2 linked regions of the Homo sapiens genome follow. The protein of the gene in region 1 purifies or fractionates together with the protein of each later gene. This does not show direct contact. Each region holds a gene or a part of one and is shown in the gene's direction. Other genes may lie near its edges.

Evidence for each region.
Region 2: the proteins of CLDN18 (region 1) and THEM4 purify together in Homo sapiens (affinity purification with mass spectrometry; 2 studies listed by BioGRID and IntAct, with this or other methods). This does not show direct contact.

Annotation. Positions count from the first base shown.
Region 1 is NC_000003.12:138,005,304-138,014,321, forward strand, and holds the start of CLDN18 (claudin-18), read left to right. Parts: upstream 1-4,861; 5' UTR 4,862-4,922; coding exon 4,923-5,142; intron 5,143-9,018. UniProt on the Homo sapiens protein: Involved in alveolar fluid homeostasis via regulation of alveolar epithelial tight junction composition and therefore ion transport and solute permeability, potentially via downstream regulation of the actin cytoskeleton organization and beta-2-adrenergic signaling.
Region 2 is NC_000001.11:151,905,711-151,915,224, reverse strand, and holds the start of THEM4 (acyl-coenzyme A thioesterase THEM4), read left to right. Parts: upstream 1-5,713; 5' UTR 5,714-5,766; coding exon 5,767-5,865; intron 5,866-9,514. UniProt on the Homo sapiens protein: Has acyl-CoA thioesterase activity towards medium and long-chain (C14 to C18) fatty acyl-CoA substrates, and probably plays a role in mitochondrial fatty acid metabolism. Plays a role in the apoptotic process, possibly via its regulation of AKT1 activity.

The DNA of each region.
Region 1 (9,018 bases):
CATAGGTATACATGTGCCATAGTGGTTTGCTGCACCCATTAACCATCTACATTAGGTATTTCTCCTAATGCTATCCCTCCCCGTGCCACCCACCCCCCTAACAGGCCCAGGTGTGTGATGTTCCCCTCCCTGTGCCCATATGTTCTCATTGTTCAACTCCCACTTACGAGTGAGAACATGAGGTGTTTGGTTTTCTGCTCCTGTGTTAGTTTGCTGAGAATGGTTGTTTCTAGCTTCATCCATGTCCCTGCAAAGGACATGAACTCATATTCGTTTTTTTCAAAAAGGCTCAAACTCAGTAATTAAAGAGATGCAAGTTAAAACAAGTAATCATATACATATATAACTTACCAAATTCACAATGTAGACTAGGATGTAAAGAGATAAGAACTTTCAAACACTGCTGTTAGGATAAAATTCATAGAAAGCAATATGGTTGTGTATAAAAAAAGATTTTTTAAAACTTCACAGTTTTTGACAACTTAATTTCACTCCTAGGAATCTATCCTAAAAGAGTCATCAGAAATGCTGACAAAGAGTTATATGTAAGATGTTCATCATAACATTGCCTTTTATTCAAAAAAATGGGGGAAGGTACAATCTAACTATATAAAAATAAGTGAATAATAGCACTTCTATATAATGAAATACTAACACACTCATATTAAATGATGTTTACAAGAGCTTTGGTGAAACTAATACAATTAAGTGAAAAGAGCAAAACATCAAACTATATTATCCTTTAATTATGTAAAAAAATACATACAGATAATTGATAAGAAGGAAGTATGCCAAATATTTTGTCTAGGGCTTAAAATTGTGAGCAATTTGTTCAAATTCTCTCCAAATTTTCTATTATGAACACCAAAAGGTGAAATTAAAAATTAGGGATATATGTGGTAATATTTTTGAAGAAAAAATTAATAGATGTGTCAATTATTTTTCTCACTAGTATATTCATTTTATTTCTTCCTAATTCCTAGCTATAATATTTTCTATTGTTATTTATGCCACCATTTTTGCCTAATTACCATAGACAGTGTTATAAAAAGTGGTGGAAATGTTTTCTCCAATGGCAGTAAAATAATATAAGCTCTTGGAAACTTACAACCTGAAATGACACTGCCAGGGCCGTATTTAAACCTGAATGCAGGGATGATTTCCCCTAGGAAGTCAGCAAAAATTCAGCTCCATTTTAAAGGTGATTAAACAAAGTTTACCAACCCCATTATTGTTAAACAGAATCAGACCTGGACTTATCTGGTAGAGATACATTGATATGTTTCAATAAAGCCTATTGCCATAAATGAGAAAGTCATATTTTCCTCTGCAGACCCCCATTCATTTTTTGGCAGATACGGCTAAAATAGTAGTCTGCTCAGAGCCCAGAAAACTTACCAGGAAGTGAAAAATCCTATCTTCCAGGTGTTTTAAAACACATCAGTATTTATTTCACACAGAAGAAGTGTGTAGATTTACAATTTCACTCCTCTCATTCAGTATTCTGCCTAGGTAGAGATAGTCTTAGTTTATCCTTTAAAATTAACTTTTTCTATTTTCAAAAAAGTGTCACTGTCACCATTTCAGCCAAGAAAGAAAATTTAATTCCTTATTATCTGAATAACATTTTTCCCTATTTTGAAACTCTGCATGAAAACATTTGCATAGGGAAACTGGGGGGGGAATTGCCATAGATGAAAAATAGATAACTTTAATCAACAATTTTTTTATTTTTCCATCTTCAATCTATGTTTTTGGTGGTATTCTAACACATGTATATGTATTGTCGGGGGAAGGTTAGACAAATGTCATAAATTGAACATCTGAAAATCAAACCAATAGAGCTTTTTAAGAATAAAAGGATACAATTTGACCTAGCAATCCCATTACTGGGTATATACCCAAAGGAATATAAACCATTCTACTATAAAAGCACATGCACACATATGTTTATTGCAGCACGATTTATAATAGCAGAGATGTGGAACCAACCCAAATGCCCATCAATGATAGACTGGATAAAATGTGGTACATATACACCATAGAATACTATGCAGCCATAAAAAGGAATGAGATCATATCCTTTGCAGGAACATGGATGAAGCTAGAAGCCATCATCCTCAGCAAACTAACACAGAAACAGAAAACTATACACCACATGTTCTCACTCATAAGTGGGAGCTGAACAATGAGAACACATGGACACAGGGAGGGGAACAACATATACTGGGGCCTGTCGGGGGTCGGGGGGGTGAGGGGAGGGAACCTAGATGATGGGTCAATAGGTGCAGCAAACCACCATGGCACATGTATACCTATGTAACAAACCTGCACGTTCTGCACATGTATCCTAGAACTTAAAGTAAAATAAATTTTTTAAATGAAATAAATTTTTAAAATGAGGATTAAAAAGCCTGCCTGTTGGTTGAAATAAAAGTAAGATAGACTCTGTCTATGGAAACAGTGGTAGAATCATTCCTGAATTATTCCAACAACAGTTTTCAACCTAATTGGTCAATCTATGCCCACCAGCAGAAACCAGTGTCACTTCTAACTGTTCCCTTCCCTCCTTTTAGAATTGGCCTTGTAACAACTCAAGGGACACACTGCCATCAACATTCCTTCACTGTAGATCATGTAACTGTTGCTTACCCTCTTATTTTAGGCTTTCTGGCTCATGCTTCACTAGAAACACTGATCACAGAACCTAAAGTAAGGTGTGCAGTGAAGGGGAGTGTTGCCTCCATTCAAATTAGAGGTAGTTCTTCCCTATTTGCTTTCTGTGTTTGCTGGGAATAATGCAGTGGGAGCAGAGGCTGGGTGCACCCAAGATAACAAAATGTCCAGACACAGAGGCTCGTTTCCTGGAGAACCTGTAAAGACCTATAAAGGTTAAAGATTGGAGTATGTATGTGGGGGGGGAGTGTGGGGGTGTGTGGGGGTGTGTGTGGGTGTGTGTGTATGTTTCAGGGCCTTGAGGTCCAGATTTTGGAGAGTGTCATTAAAATGTCTCCGGAGGGCTGGGCACAGTGGCTCACGCCTGCAATCCTGGCACTTTGGGAGGCCGAGGCAGGCAGATCATTTGAGGTCAGGAGTTCGAGGCCAGCCTGACCAACATGGTGAAACCCCATCTCTACTAAAATACAAAAATTAGCTGGGTGTGGTGGCAGGCGCCTGTAATCTCAGCTAGTCAGGAGGCTGAGGCAGGAGAATCGCTTGAACCCAGGAGGTGGAGGTTGCAGTGAGCCAAGATTGCGCCACTGCACTCCAGCCTGGGCGACAGAGTGAGACTCCCTCTCAAAATAAATAAATAAATAAATAAAAACAAAATATATCTGGAAGCCAGGCACAGTGAGTCACGCCTGTAATCCCAGCACTTTGGGAAGCCAAGATAAGCAGATCACTTGAGCTCAGGAATTCGAGCCCAGCGTAAGCAACATGGTGAAACCCTGTCTCTACTAAAAACATAAAAATTAGCCGGGTGTGGTGGTATGCATGTATAGTTCCAAATACTCTGGAGGCTGAGGCATGAGAATTGCTTGAACCCAGGAGGCAGAATTTGCAGTGACCCCGATGACAACACTGCACTCCAGTCTGGGCAACAGAGCAAGACTCCATCTCAAAAAATTTTTAAAAAGTCTCTGGATTCAGAGGCCAGACATACCTGGCCCCCATATCCGTCAACCAATTCTCTAGCAAAATTTAGTTGTATAGACAAAACATAACACCTGATGTCTTCAGCCAAGTCTCTCTACTGTGATTATACAATTCCTAATATTTTGACCAATTCTAGTGAAAACTTTTCTGCAAAATGTAGAAGATAGTGTATGAGATCTGAAAAGGCTCTGGAGTGTTCTAGTTTAGATCTCACATGTTGTGGATGAAGAACCTGTGACCTACAAGGGCTTAGGAGTTTGCCCCCAACCTGCCCAGCACACGACAAGTTAGGGGCAGCATCAGGAGCAGATCCTAAGCCTCTCCGTGACCAGGCCAAGGACTTCAGCCCAGCTAACCCTGGTCCCTCCTCTGGCCTTTGTGGGACCTCCTGTGTCAGCCACAGAGTCCTCATGTGGTTCTTGTGGCACGAGTGAAAGCATGACATGGAAATCAACGGGGTCCCTGGCTTCCTCTCATCCCAGTTCCAATGCTTATGGACCAAGAGCATAGATCTAGGATTTGGCTTCGTGTTCTCAAAAGTGGGGACAATTTTGCCTGCCCCTGCTGCTCCATATGGAAACAGAGAAAGAGCGCTGGACTGGAAGCTGAGGTGGGAGCCCCACCCCTGCCGTTTTTAGAGTATCTGTGGTTCCAGGCACTGGGACAAGTCCCTTAACTTATCTGTACTTTTCTTGACTCACCCCCAAAAAATGGGGATAATAGTGCCTGCCCTACCCATTTCTGTAAGATCAAAATGGAAAGATGTAAGTGAAAAAAGTCGTTCATGAGTTGTGAGGAGAAAATGTGAAAAGTCTGGTTTAAGACAGAGCACGGTGGGTGCTTCCCAGGGGCCATCTTAAGCGAGGTCAGCCAAAGTGGTCTGCAGTCACGTTCCCCGTGGTGGGGACACGTCAGCCTTTTCTCCAGATGGCGGCGCTCTCCGGAGGAGCCGGAGCTGGAGGGAGGCCGGTCTGGCCCGGAGCAGGGAGTCCTTCTGCTCCCTGGCACGGCTCTGCGCTGAACCCACCCGGCCTGCGGAGAGCAGACAAGTGCCTCTTGGGCCCGCTTCTCTAACAAATGTAAAAATAATGCCCTTGAACCAGGAGCGAAACTGAGCTATCTAAGGAAAACACTGTGAGCAAATACTGAGAGCCTAGGGAAACCATCTGATTAGAAGAGCTCCCCTCAGGAGCGCGTTAGCTTCACACCTTCGGCAGCAGGAGGGCGGCAGCTTCTCGCAGGCGGCAGGGCGGGCGGCCAGGATCATGTCCACCACCACATGCCAAGTGGTGGCGTTCCTCCTGTCCATCCTGGGGCTGGCCGGCTGCATCGCGGCCACCGGGATGGACATGTGGAGCACCCAGGACCTGTACGACAACCCCGTCACCTCCGTGTTCCAGTACGAAGGGCTCTGGAGGAGCTGCGTGAGGCAGAGTTCAGGCTTCACCGAATGCAGGCCCTATTTCACCATCCTGGGACTTCCAGGTAGGCACCGTGCACCCCGGGGTAGAGCCAGGTGAACCAGGTGAGCAGGGAAGGGGGCGTTTGCGTTAAGCCCCACTCCCACCTCTGGGTGAGGACCCTGGCAGCTCTGGCTCAGAATGAAAGGTGTGAATAAAAGGAGAAGCTGGCTCGTGTCTAATAGGGCAACAGTCATGCAGGAGAAAATGGGAGGGTTAATACTCAAGGCGAAGGAATCGCTAGTGAGGAGGCAGGCCTCAAGAAGAATGGGTCTATTGTAAGGGTATGTTCATGATACCTGGAATAAACTCGTGTTTCTCAAGGAGAAAATAAATTGTGTGCATTACTTGCATGTGGCTTGCTCCTGCCTGCACATACATGGGAGCAGGGAAGCAGGATGCTGAGTATTTTGTTATATCTGGAAAAGTTTATTGAGAGCTAATTTAATTTTCTTTCCATTTCAATTAAATTTTTCAAAGTTGGAGTCTCTGTGGGTGCCAAAAAGAATATTGCCATTAAATTATAAATATCCTTTTGCTGCATTTGTATTAAGAATATCTTGTATACTGTCCTAAAAATCAATGTATATCAAAATATAATTACAGAATTATAATTATATTATGTCAGAATATAAATATAATTATAAATGTGACATCCTTTCACCCCTAAAGATGAAATAAATTAAACCCCTGCTTTTAATATAGATAATTACTTCAAATATGCATCATAGCAACTTTGCATTCTGAATAATATGGGAGCTCTATTTGTATTTTTAAAATGCAAACAAGAAAATAATAGCTCTAGCTAATTAGTGGCTCTAAGGGGTGGCCAAGATGTGAGTGTGATGGAGAAAGGAGAACAATGTCTCTGAAACAAATACCTTTTATAAACAAGTAGATGGAAATAAATTTGCAAGAAATTGTGAAGAGGCTGTAGAGCCCTTGAAACTGAATTGAATTGTGAAAAGCAATTCAACTAATCCAAGTTCATTTTCAGAAAGAAATAGAAGATGGGTGTCAGAGTAGAAGAATTTGATTATTTATTCCATTTTTTGGAAGCCACTTATTGCAGGACCAACAGGATGACTGACTCCGGGGAAAGACCTGCTTAGGGAAGCAAGGGAGGTAGAACCTGGCCAAAAGAAAGAGAACCAGACTGAGGAGGGATTATGCTGTAGTGGGAGGGGAGAGGTGAGATGCAGGAAATGCCACACAGAGTGTTGAGTTGCTAGTTATGTCTAATTTTAACTATCATATAAAGAAAAAATATTGTCCTCATATTCAAAATTAAGGCATGATGTCTTATGACTTCATGTTCAATAACCTCTCCCCAGGGCCCCACTACATATTATCAATCTCTTGCTCACTGTGTATCACAGTCTCCATACATGGGGCTCCTGAATATTCCCACTCTCCTAAATGGGCAAACCCCATTGCGTCCACTGTGACTTGTCACTCCTATTCTGTCAACGGATCTTATCTCCATGACACCCTCTCAGAATAGCTCCACCTCTCCCCCTTGATGGAACAAGATTATCTTCCCTGCTTTCCTGCTAAGGTCAACCTCTCCTGCTAAGGTCAACCTCCCCAGCAGGGCTCTGAAGGCCTCATGCCACCTGTCTGGGATCATGCCCTGTTGGTCAGCCCCTCTCCTCCTTGCCTCTTTCATCTCTTCTCCTCACTTATGCATATGGCCTCCTTCCTGGGGAAATCTGTTGATCCTGATCATTGTCAAGTTCTGTCTCTCTCCTGGGTCACTGACAAACCAAATTAAAAGACTAAGTTTTTCCACTACCTCTCACCCTTAACCTTTCTCAGTCTGGTTTCTATCCTTCATCTCTATAGAATGTTTGCTTTTTTGACCATAGCAGAGGATGAAGGGGAGTATTTCAGTCACCAACTCCTAGTTCTCAGTTCTCATCTCCTTAGACATTTCAAAACCCAAACAACTTCCACGGTTCCCCATTCCCAGCTTAACTAGGTGCACACATAACAGCCTGACACCAAGCCTTCCTAACCCCTCACCTACCTTCCTTGGCAGTCTCTTACTCCCCCATCCTGTTTCTTCTGTCCTTTCAGTATACCTTGGACTTGGTCCTGGACATCCATTGCTCCTGCTCCCCTGAATTCCCCCCTCCACCACCCCAACTGTCCTCTCACAAATCTTCCTCCAAACCTCCTCAAGCCCCCAAATTGAATAAAGATTCCACAAGTCTCTGTACCAAACCCAGAGCATTCTCATAGCATTGAGCATATTCACCCCGCGTGACACTGCTCTCAAATCTGAGAAGCATTTATTGCATACCTACAAAGAGTACACAACACAAAACTGGCCTTGTCGGCACCGTAAATTCCAGCAGAGGGGACAGGCATGTGTGTGAATATCAAAGCAAAGGCAACACATGTCATGGGGCTTTGACACAAGTGTTTGGAGCCCAGGAAGAAAGTGGTTATTCAGTAGGAAGAGTCAGGAGGGGAGGAAATCAGGACAGTTTTGCTAAGGGAGTTCTGTTTGAGTCTGAACTTTAGCTTACTAACTTGGTTATTTGTACATTTGTGTCATTCAGCTTCTATGTGGTGTTTCCCTTCAGCTGGATAAGAATTATTTCCCCATTTCCCAGAAAAGCGCCTGGTAGAGTGAGTATTTAGCAAAGGATTGATAAACTAAGTTGAATTAAATAGTACGAATAGTTCATTTTAAGTGTTTATGCAAGCCATTGAACTAAAAACAGGTTAAGGTCTTCCCCAAAAAGGACAGTAAATCATTTTTGTACTATAAATTTTTTGTTATTATGGCTCCATATATAGAAAAGGACCTGGTCCTCCTCCTGCCTGGAACAGATTCATTTGTTCATCCAATCATGTATTTAACAAATATCTCTTGCATGCCTACTGTGTTGCAGAGACTAGAGTTCAGGAACTCTATTAGTCAGAGTAGTTAATGTCTGCTGCTGCAACAAACAAACCTAAACATCTCAATGGCTTGACACAACAAAAGTTTACTTCCTGCCCACATAAAGTCCACTGTGGGAAGAGCAGCCTCCTTGTAGCTACACTCTTCAAAGTTGCTGGGGCAAGAGAAGAAAGGCTTGAAGGAGGCACAACAGTTCTTAACTGCTTCAATCTGAAAGGAACACATGTCACTCACAGTGCGTTGGCCACAACTAGCCATATGGCCCCAGGAGCTGGGAGATGTAGGAGCACATAGCTATTGGGTGAGCACCTACTGTCTCTACCACAGGGAGCATTTGAGTAGTAACTTCCTGGGCTGCAACACATCAACCACACTAATTTCAGTTCTGCCAGACAGATAATTCCCTGAACATCAAATAGTCAAAACCAATGAGATTGCAAAAGAAGATATACCATTAATTTATATTTAAACAAATATGATAGAATTATATGTGTAAACTATCATCTGACACAAGATAATATATAGCGTGTAATTTCAGAGCTAGACATTTTGGTGGGGATGGCCTGGAATCAGGAAAGAGGAGGGGTTTAAGGTAAATTTCTGCAATGTAAAAATTCCCTAACATTTAATAACAGAGGAATGTAAATATGGCCATGGGGGTGGGGGCGGAAAGCACATTTTTTTCAAAAAGTAAGGAGGAAGAAAGGAACAGTGGGTGAGGGAGAGAGGGAGGGAAGGTGAGAAGGAAGAAAGTAGAGAGGAAGAGAGGGAGGAAGAGAGGTGGGAGAATTGGTGATGCTAGGTACTTTTATTCCGTGTCAGGCCAGACAAAGAGCTCTTAGAGAGAGAAGCCAGTTGCCACTCATGGAACCCTGAGATGTTTCAGACCCACGAAAGGAGAGGTCCTTGGCTCTCTGAGAAGGATTTTAGGGAAGCTGGAAGAAATGACTTTCCTCAAATCCCAGCTGGAGGACAGCAAATGTGAAT
Region 2 (9,514 bases), on another chromosome or scaffold:
GGTGACTCAAAATCTATATTAAGCATTTGTAAGTATTTATAAATGATACTTTTTTATTATTCACAGTATACCAAGGCAAAAATAAGCTTTCTTAAGTTAGAATTCTGTAAAGATTGCTGCTTATCCAGTTCATCCCACCTCACTCATTACCAGAATTTTCATGTAACAGCTTGGTTGGTCTGTCAATCCAGGTGTCTTTACATAACAAATCCTACAGATGCCCTTAACTCTGAATTCAACAAAGGCAATGTTGAAAAAGACCAACCCAGCACTCTGTATTTTTTAATTTTTTTTTTTTAATGTTCACCCTGTCTTATGGTGCTGCAGCACTCTGTAATGACAATGATATATCAGAACTTTCTTGGGAATATATCATAACATCCATGAAACCCTACATTTGATGATGGCATGGGAATATATAATTTTCTCCAGGTGTTTCAGCTGTAAAATAGGGATAATAATGGTAATCTCACATGATTATCCTGATGATTAAATGAAGAGAACTTTGAACTAGAGATAAAAAGTTAAGATTCATCAGCAAATAAAAGGTATTTAAACCATGGGAATTGATGAGACAACTAAAGAGAAAAAGTTGAGAGAGAAAAGAAGATCCCAGCCCTCCTTCCAAATGTTTCCCACTCATTAGTTCATTCAACAATTATTTTTGAGTGTCTAAGATCTGCACGTCACTGAATGCATGGGTACACCAAAGAGACATGGAAAAAGCCTATAGTCTCCTCAGAGAGACAGGTAGCACACAAATATATATTTAACTACAAACTATAATAATTGCTTTAAAGGAAAAGTTTCAGCACTCTGAGAGAATTTAATGAAGACCTAATTCAGATTAAATAAAATCATGTATATAAAGCACTTAGCATACTGTCTGAAACCTAGTAAGCACTTTGTTCAGGGAAGGCCTCCCTAAGAAAGTGGCAATTATGCTGACACCAAAAATTTAGTAGGAGTTAGCTACGAAAGAGTAGGGGGAAAGAGCATTACAAGCAGAACATCAACACACAAGAAGGCCCTGGGGCAGGAAAGAGCCTGCGGCACTCCAGGAGCTGAAAGGAGACCTGTGCAGCTAAAGCATATGACAGGTAGTAAATGACAATACCATCTACCTGACACCCCACAAGTAGAAATCTCCCTCTCCTCCATGTGATTAAAATGACTTCAAGAACCATACAACATTACTTGGACATATTGTATGATGGTTAAAAAAAACCACACAATAACTCTGTACATTATATTAAAATATTAATGATGCAGATAAATTGTATCTACCTAAAAATGAGCCTGCAATTCCTCTTTTCAACCTCCTCTTTCACAGTCACCCTTCTTCCACTACTGAAAGGGAAGATGGACCCTTCACCCAGCCGGAGACTCATTTTGGTGCCTTGCCCCATGGATAACAATTCAAGAATACATCCTTTCCAAGAGTGAGACCTATGACAACAAATCCAAGAAAAATTCAGCAAGAAATATTAAAGCAGCTAGCATCACGCTGACATTCAGTTTTCTTATAAATGGAAGGTTTGAAATTTAACTTAAAATTTAGATGTGAAATGTTATCAGAGGTGCATTAATAAGTGCAATAATAAGAATACAAATATCTCATTATTTTAAATGGGCAAAATATTTGAATAGACGTTTCAATGAAGAAGATACACAGATGAAAAATAAGCCCATAGATGTCCTACATTATTCATCATTAGGAAAATGCCAATTAAAACCACAATAAAATACTTACACACATCTAGTTACAATGGCTAAAACATAAAAGATTGACCATACCGAAGGCTGGCAAGGATATGGAGGAACTGAAATCCTTATGCACTGCTGGTAAAATGATACAACAACTTTGGAAAAGTTTGGCAGTTTCTTAAACAGTTAAACATACATCTACCACATGATCCAACCATTCCACTCTTAGATATTTACCCAAGAGAAATGAAGGCATACATCCATACAAAGACTTGTACTCACAGCAGCTATATTTGTAATTCACAAAAACTGGAAATAAGCCAAATGGTCATCCATGGGTGAATAGAAAAATTGTGGTACATCCATACAATGGAATACTACTCAGCAATTTTAAAAAATAAATTCTCGACATAAGCAAAACATGGATGAATCTCAAAATAGTTATAGTGAATTAAAAAAATCCAGACCACAAAAAGTACATACTATATAATTCCATTTATATAAAACTCTAGAAAATGGAAATTAATCTACAGTGACAGAAAGTACTGTACGATAGAAGGGAGGATTTACAAAAGGGCATGAGCAAATTTGTGGGTAATATTTTGTGGCTCATTATCTTGATTATGGTGATGTTTGCATGAGTGTAAACTTGTATGAAAACATCCAATTGTATACTTTAAATATGTTCAGTTTATGTCAACTATCTCTTTTTTTTTTTTTTTTTTTTTTTTGAGACGGAGTCTCATTCTGTCACCCAGGCTGGAGTGCAGTGGTGCAATCCTGGCTCACTGCAACTTCCGCCTCCCGGGTTCAAGCAATTCTCCTGCCTCAGCCTCCCGAGTAGCCGGGATTACAGGTGCACGCCACCATGCCCAGCTAATTTTTGTATTTTTAGTAAAGACGGGGTTTCATCATGTTGGTCAGGCTGGTCTCGAACTCCTGACCTTGTGATCCGCCTGCCACAGCCTCCTAAAGTGTTGGGATTACAGGCATGAGCCACTGCCTCTGGCTTTTTTTTTTTTTTTTTTTTTGAGATGGAGTTTCGTTCTTGTTGCCCAGGCTGGAGTACAATGGCGCGATCTCGGCTCTCTGCAACCTCCACCTGACAGGTTCAAGCGATTCTCCTGCCTCAGCCTCTCAAGTAGCTGGGATTACAGGCATGCGCCACCACACCTGGCTAACTTTTTTTTTTTTTTTTTTTTTGAGACTCAGTCTTACTCTGTCGCCCAGGCTGGAGTGCAGTGGCGCGATCTTGGCTCACTGCAAGCTCCGCCTCCCACGTTCACGCCATTCTCCTGCCTCAGACTCCCGAGTAGCTGGGACTACAGGCGCCCGCCACCACGCCCGGTTAATTTTTGGTATTTTTAGTAGAGACAGGGTTTCACCGTGTTAGCCAGGACGGTCTCAATCTTCTGACCTCGTGATCTGCCCGCTGCAGCCTCACAAAGTGCTGGGATTATAGGAGTGAGCCACTGCGCCCGGCCTTAATTTTTGTATTTTTAGCAGAGACGGGGTTTCACCATGTTGGCCTGGCTGGTCTCAAACTCCTGACCTCAGGTGATCCACCCACCTCAGCCTCCCAAAGTGCTGGAATTACAGGTATGAGCCACGGTGCCCATCCTATGGCAACTACACCTCAATAAAGCTGTCTACAAAATTAAAGAATGGTGAGAAGACTATTAAGTTTCATACCATTGGCTTATTCGAAGCCTAGTTCTATCAAGATTGAACATTTGTTCCTTGCCTAAACCATACAAGCTTCAAACTCCTTCACTTCCATAGCCTATCAATCCTATTTCTAGACTGTAACCTGCCCTTCCTCTTCCAAATCTGACCAGACATTTTATATGTGCTGTCAACACGAATATCCCAGAGTAAGCCATGCAAGAGTGTGGATGACTTAACTAAATGCACTGCCGCTACTTGAAAAATTTAGAGTTAAAATTTAATGAAGTTTAAACTCAGTGTAACTGACCTCTAATTGCCCTAAGTCTAAGGTCTTTTAAGAAGCTGATAGGTGCCGAGTGCAGTGGCTCATGCTGGTAATCCCAGCACTTTGGGAGGCAGGCAGATCACTTGAGGTCAGGAGTTCAAGACCAGCCTGGCCAACAGGGTGAAACCCCGTCTCTACCAAAAATATAAAAATTAGCCAGATGTGGTGGCACGCGCCTGTAATCCCACCTACTCGGGAGGTTGAGGCAGGGAGAATCGCTTGAACCCTGGAGGCAGAGGTTGCAGTGAGCCAAGATCATGCCACTGCACTTCCAGCCTGGGCAACAGAGTGAGACTCCATCTCAAAAAAACAAAAGGAAGCTGTTAGGTGAGCTATTGGTACATTAATCATATAGACAATCTTAGCAGGGTTGAAGTCTATAGGTATTGATTGATTTGACTACACTGTAAATTGTAAATAGATGCAATTTTAAGTTACCTGAATAAACTTTTCTATTCATTAACAGTAGTCATCTCAATTTTAGAGATTTACGTTATGCTCGTGCCTCCATCTGCACGCACAACATGGGAAGACAACAGACACCAAAGATACTTTGGATTCTTGCTGCTAAGTAAGTATTCAAGCACTACGTGCACGTTGTTACAATTAATAAGGCAATCTGACCCCATCCCTGCCACCAGGAAACTGCAATACTATTAATATATTAAAAAGGAAGACAACTGAGATAAAGGGAATGTGGGAGGTTGGGGGGGGTGCTTAGGAGATATCAGAATACAACCTCTTAGAATTACAGAATCTCAACAACCATCCTTTATGCCTGATCTTCGGTTCAGTAGCTCTAGGATTCCAAGGGGCCCCTCCTAACTGCATTGCCTTCTCTCCCCAATTCCCTTTCTCTCAGAATGTTACACCTTCCCCCAGTTAATAGTGTAGGCTTAAAATGTATCTAGGTGTTCTTACCTACTGACAAACTGCTGGAGTTGTTCATGGGAAAGGAATCAAGGCAAAATATCTAATGCATTCAGGTCATTCGAGTTTTCTTTTTAATTTATTGCTTTTTTGAGATGGGGCATCAGTATGTTGCCCAGGCTGAAGTGCAATAGCAGTATCTCTGCGAGACTCTGTCTCAAAAAAAACCCATTAGAGTCTTCACCTTAGGATGGACTAGGGCTATGGCATACTGGTAAGCATTTAAAAATAAAGGGGTATGATGGCCCGGATTTGCATTATCTGAGTAATGGGAATACTCCAACCCAGTCCGATTTCAAGGTCCCAGTGAGGTTACTGAATTCGAAGCTCAGAAGGTATGCGCCTAGTATTCCCACCATACGAATACAAGCGAGGTAAGTAACCTCAAAAGCATCGATAACAGTAAAATAGTTACAATACCTGTTACGCCTTTAGTATCCATTACCTTCGTTTAATTTAACTGTCAGTTTACATAACAAAAGAGTCTTTTAAGGCGTAAGCGCGCTCCTGGGGAGGGTATGGGGCTGTTGGCAGGGAAAGCAGCTTTTCGATCGTATAAATGCTCTTTGTGCCCAGACTGCCCTCTATAAATCAGCACTATCAACCCTGTCCAGAGACTTGCCCATGACCTCCAAGAAAACACTTTATTCATACTACTCCTAGCGTGCGCTCCTACCCGCCCCAGGGACTTCAGTCTTCCGGGGGAGGGATAACTACTTGGGGACACGGAGCACTGCGTACGCCCTGGGTCATGTGGGAAGGATGACCGCAAAGCCTCCAGTCGGCGCGCGGGTTCCGGGGCTGAGGGGCTGAGGGGCCCAAGGCGATAACCGGGATCCGCTCCGGCCGCGCTCCTCTTGCCTTTGAGAAGCCCCGGAAGTGGCCCGGCTGTTGGCCGCAGCGGGAGGTCTTCGGAAAGAAAAGGCCGGAACCAGAAGATAGACTCAACAGCGATGCCCTACCCGGACCCCGCCGGCCTCACACCCCGGCCAGCCAGCCGCCAGTAGTGCGCACCGCCTCCTCCCCAAGCCCCGCCCTGCGTCCACCCCAGGGGTTAACTCGCACGCGCGCTCTTGTGGCGGAGGTAGAGTGCGCCGTCCAGGGCTAGAGCAAGCGCGGCCCCGCGGCCCGGAGCCATGCTGAGGAGCTGCGCCGCGCGCCTCCGCACGCTGGGGGCTCTGTGCCTGCCGCCAGTAGGCCGGCGCCTGCCGGGAAGCGAGCCGCGACCCGAGCTGGTGAGTCTGGGCACCCTCGGGCATGGGGCGGGAGCAGGACTCAGAAACACGCCTGCGGTAACAGAGCCTTCGATTGTTATCCATACCCCAACCAGCCAATCTCAGAATAAAAGCTCACCTGGGCACCACAGGGCAGCATAAGCAACAGGGGCCTAGGAATACAGTCCTGAGATTCAAACCGTTAGAAAAGGGATGGAAAGGTGACCCCGTTTTTTTGTTTTTTAAGAGACAGGGTCGGCAGGGCGCTACCTGAACTGCATAATTTAGTCTGTCTATTTATATTTTGACAACATCTGTATTTTACCAATAATATTTGAGGCTGTTTTTATTTTTCAAAGATTAAAGTGACGTGAACTAAAAGATACCACAGCTTTTATCTTCCCTTTAAAAAAATATTTGATCCAAACGCTTATCTTCCTTTAGGTCAATTAATTAGAGATCTTTTTATAGACATCACACACAACACATATATAACTACACAGACAGGCAGAAGAAAACCCAGTTGCCATAAGATCTTTCATCACAGGGAGAGGGATCTATCTGCTTTTAATTCCTGGGGTTCCATGAGGAAAACAGAGATCGCCCCTCTTATGCAGGCATTAAAAGTGGCAAGGCAAAATGGAGAAAAATAACTCAGTCGACCGCAAAGAAACACTTTTTCCAGCAAAATAAGGTCCAAGAAAAGGAAAACATAAAGGCCTTATAAATATAATTACAACTTAGATATCTACTTTTAATTAAGCTGAGCACTCCTTAAGAAAATTCTTTTAACACCCTTATTATCTAACTTTAGCTCCACCAAGCGGCCAATATTTCTGGCTTTCAAACTTTACTTAAAGGCTCAGAGAAAGGAAAATCCAAGGTGGTTGGTGGAGGGCAGGGGAATCGACAAATAGCGAAAGGGCATACAGATACCAAACCAGAAAGGACTCATTCCCTAAGCCAGGATGAATCTGGGCCATGCCGGGCTAAACGAAGCTATGCAATGGGGTTACAGGCCACGCCCCCAAGGACGTAAAACAAGATGGAGGCCTGCAGCGAAGTTTGCTGTGGAGCATACAGAAAGACATGCAAAACACACAGATTGGCTACAGCTTACGACTTACCTCACAAATCCTTTCGCACAAAACTTTACAGAAAATATAAACGGTAATCCTCATCATTCCCAAAAGAGCAAAACGTCTTCCAAAAGGAAAAGAAAAACCTCCTTTAAAAGTATACTGCTGATGGGTTGGAGAGGAGATAAGGATGCCTGGGGGAAGAACCTCTTATTCCTATGCAAATGGTTCCTCCACCAGAGAGAGGAGCTTAATTGCTGTGGGACAGAGCTAGACTCCCTGGAATGGGGAGGGGGAGACTGCAGGCACCTGGTAGGGAACGCCAGCCAGCCATGCCGGCGCCTTGGAGCCTGGGCAGTGGCTGTGGCTCATTTATGCCCTGTGTGGCTACTGGACACCACACACACATGCTGCAGACACCACCATGCACCCCAGCCAGTAAAGAAGTGGGGCCAGGGAGCTACCCCACCCAACTGTCTTGTGAGTGCACTGGTGACCATTGGGGTGGGTGTGGACCACCTCCAGTATCGTAAAAAGAAAAATAGGTGCCGTTGCTGTCCCCCCAAAAAGAAGAGGAATGCCATAAGACCAAAAGGCTCAGAAATGAAAGTGAGAGGTTTTGAGTCCCCATTTCACTCATCCTTCTGTTGCAGGAATGAAGGAGGACTGGAGAGGCCATGGGGTGAGACAGGAGAACTTTATTGAGTGCACTCAGACCCAGCGGACTAACATCCAAAAGCTGGGCCCAGAACAAAGACAGCACTTGACTTTAATACACACTTTTAAAAGGGGGTGGGCTAGCTTGAAACAAGCTTACAGTGGCGTGAAGCATAGTGGCGTGAAAGCAAGGATACAGAGGCAGCACAAAGGCAATTAATTCATCAAATTGTGACAGGTGCATAATTCAGGATTACATACTGTGTCGGAATTGATGGGTTCTTGGTCTCACTGACTTCAAGAAAGAAGCCACGGACCCTCGTGGTGAGTGTTATAGTTCTTAAAGGCGGCATGTCCGGCGTTTGTTCCTTCTGATGTTCGGATGTGTTCAGAGTTTCTTCCTTCTGGTGGGTTCATGGTCTTGCTGGCTCAAGAGTGAAATTGCGGACCTTCGTGGTGAGTGTTATAGCTCTTAAGGCAGCACGTCTGGAGTTGTTCGTTCCTCCCGGTGGGTTTGTGGTCTCGTTGGCTTCAGGAGTGAAGCTGCAGACCTTCGCGGTGAGTGTTACAGCTCATAAAGGCAGTGTGGACCCAAAGAGTGAGCAGCAGCAAGATTTATTGCAAAGAGCGAAAGAACAAAGCTTCCACAGTGTGGAAGGGGACCCGAGCGGGTTGCCACTGCTGGCTTGGGCAGCCTGCTTTTATTCTCTTATCTGGCCCCACCCACATCCTGCTGATTGGTAGAGCCAAGTGGTCTGTTTTGACAGGGCCCTGATTGGTGCATTTACAATCCCTGAGCTAGACACAAAGGTTCTCCACGTCCACACCAGATTAGCTAGATACAGAGTGTCAACACAAAGGTTCTCCCAGTCCCCACCAGAGTAGCTAGATACAGAGTGTCGATTGGTGCATTCACAACCCCTGAGCTAGACATAGGGTGCTGATTGGTGTGTTTATAAACCTTGAGCTAGATACAGAGTGCCGATTGGTGTATTTACAGTCCTTTAGCTAGACATAAAGGTTCTCCAAGTTCCCACTAGACTCAGGAGCCCAGCTGGCTTCACCCAGTGGATCTCGCACTGGGGCTGCAGGTGGAACTGCCTGCCAGTCCCACGCTGTGTGCCCACACTCCTCAGCCCTTGGGTGCTCGATGGGACTGGGCGCCGTGGAGCAGGGGGCAGCACTCATCAGGGAGGCTCGGGCCGTGCAGGAGCCCACGGAGGGCGTGGGAGGCTCAGGCATGGCAGGCTGCAGGTCCCGAGCCCTGCCCCGCCAGAAGGCAGGTAAGGCCCAGTGAGAAATCGAGCGCAGCGCCAGTGGGCCGGCACTGCTGGGGGACCCAGTACACCCTCTGCAGCCACTGGCCCGGGTGCTAAGCCCCTCATTGCGTGGGGCCGGCAGGGCCGGCTGGCTGCTCCGAGTGCAGGGCCCGCCAAGCCCACACCCACCTGGAACTCCAGCTGGTCCACAAGCACCCCGCGCAGCCCTGGTTCCTGCTCGCGCCTCTCCCTCCACACCTTCCTGCAAGCTGAGGGAGCCGGCTCTGGCCTTGGCCAGCCCAGAAAGGCGCTCCCACAGTGCAGCAGTGGGCTGAAGGGCTCCTGAAGTGCCGCCAAAGTGGGAGCCCAGGCAGAGGAGGCGCCGAGAGGGAGCGAGGGCTGTGAGGACTTCCAGCACACTGTCACCTCTCACTATGACCCTTGCTTATGCAGCCCAGGTGGCTGTTATCTAGGCTTGCTCAAAAGAGCCTTGCAAGTGCTTATCTCATAATCTTCACTATGGTGCCCAGACGGCCGCAGCCTAGGCCTACTCAGGCATGTCTTATAACCTTCACTGTGCTGTTTAGATAAAACAGAATACTTGAAGTTACTAGTTACAGAAAACAGGAATCTATAAACTCATAAAACTTGCAGAGCAAGGTACAATCACACGGA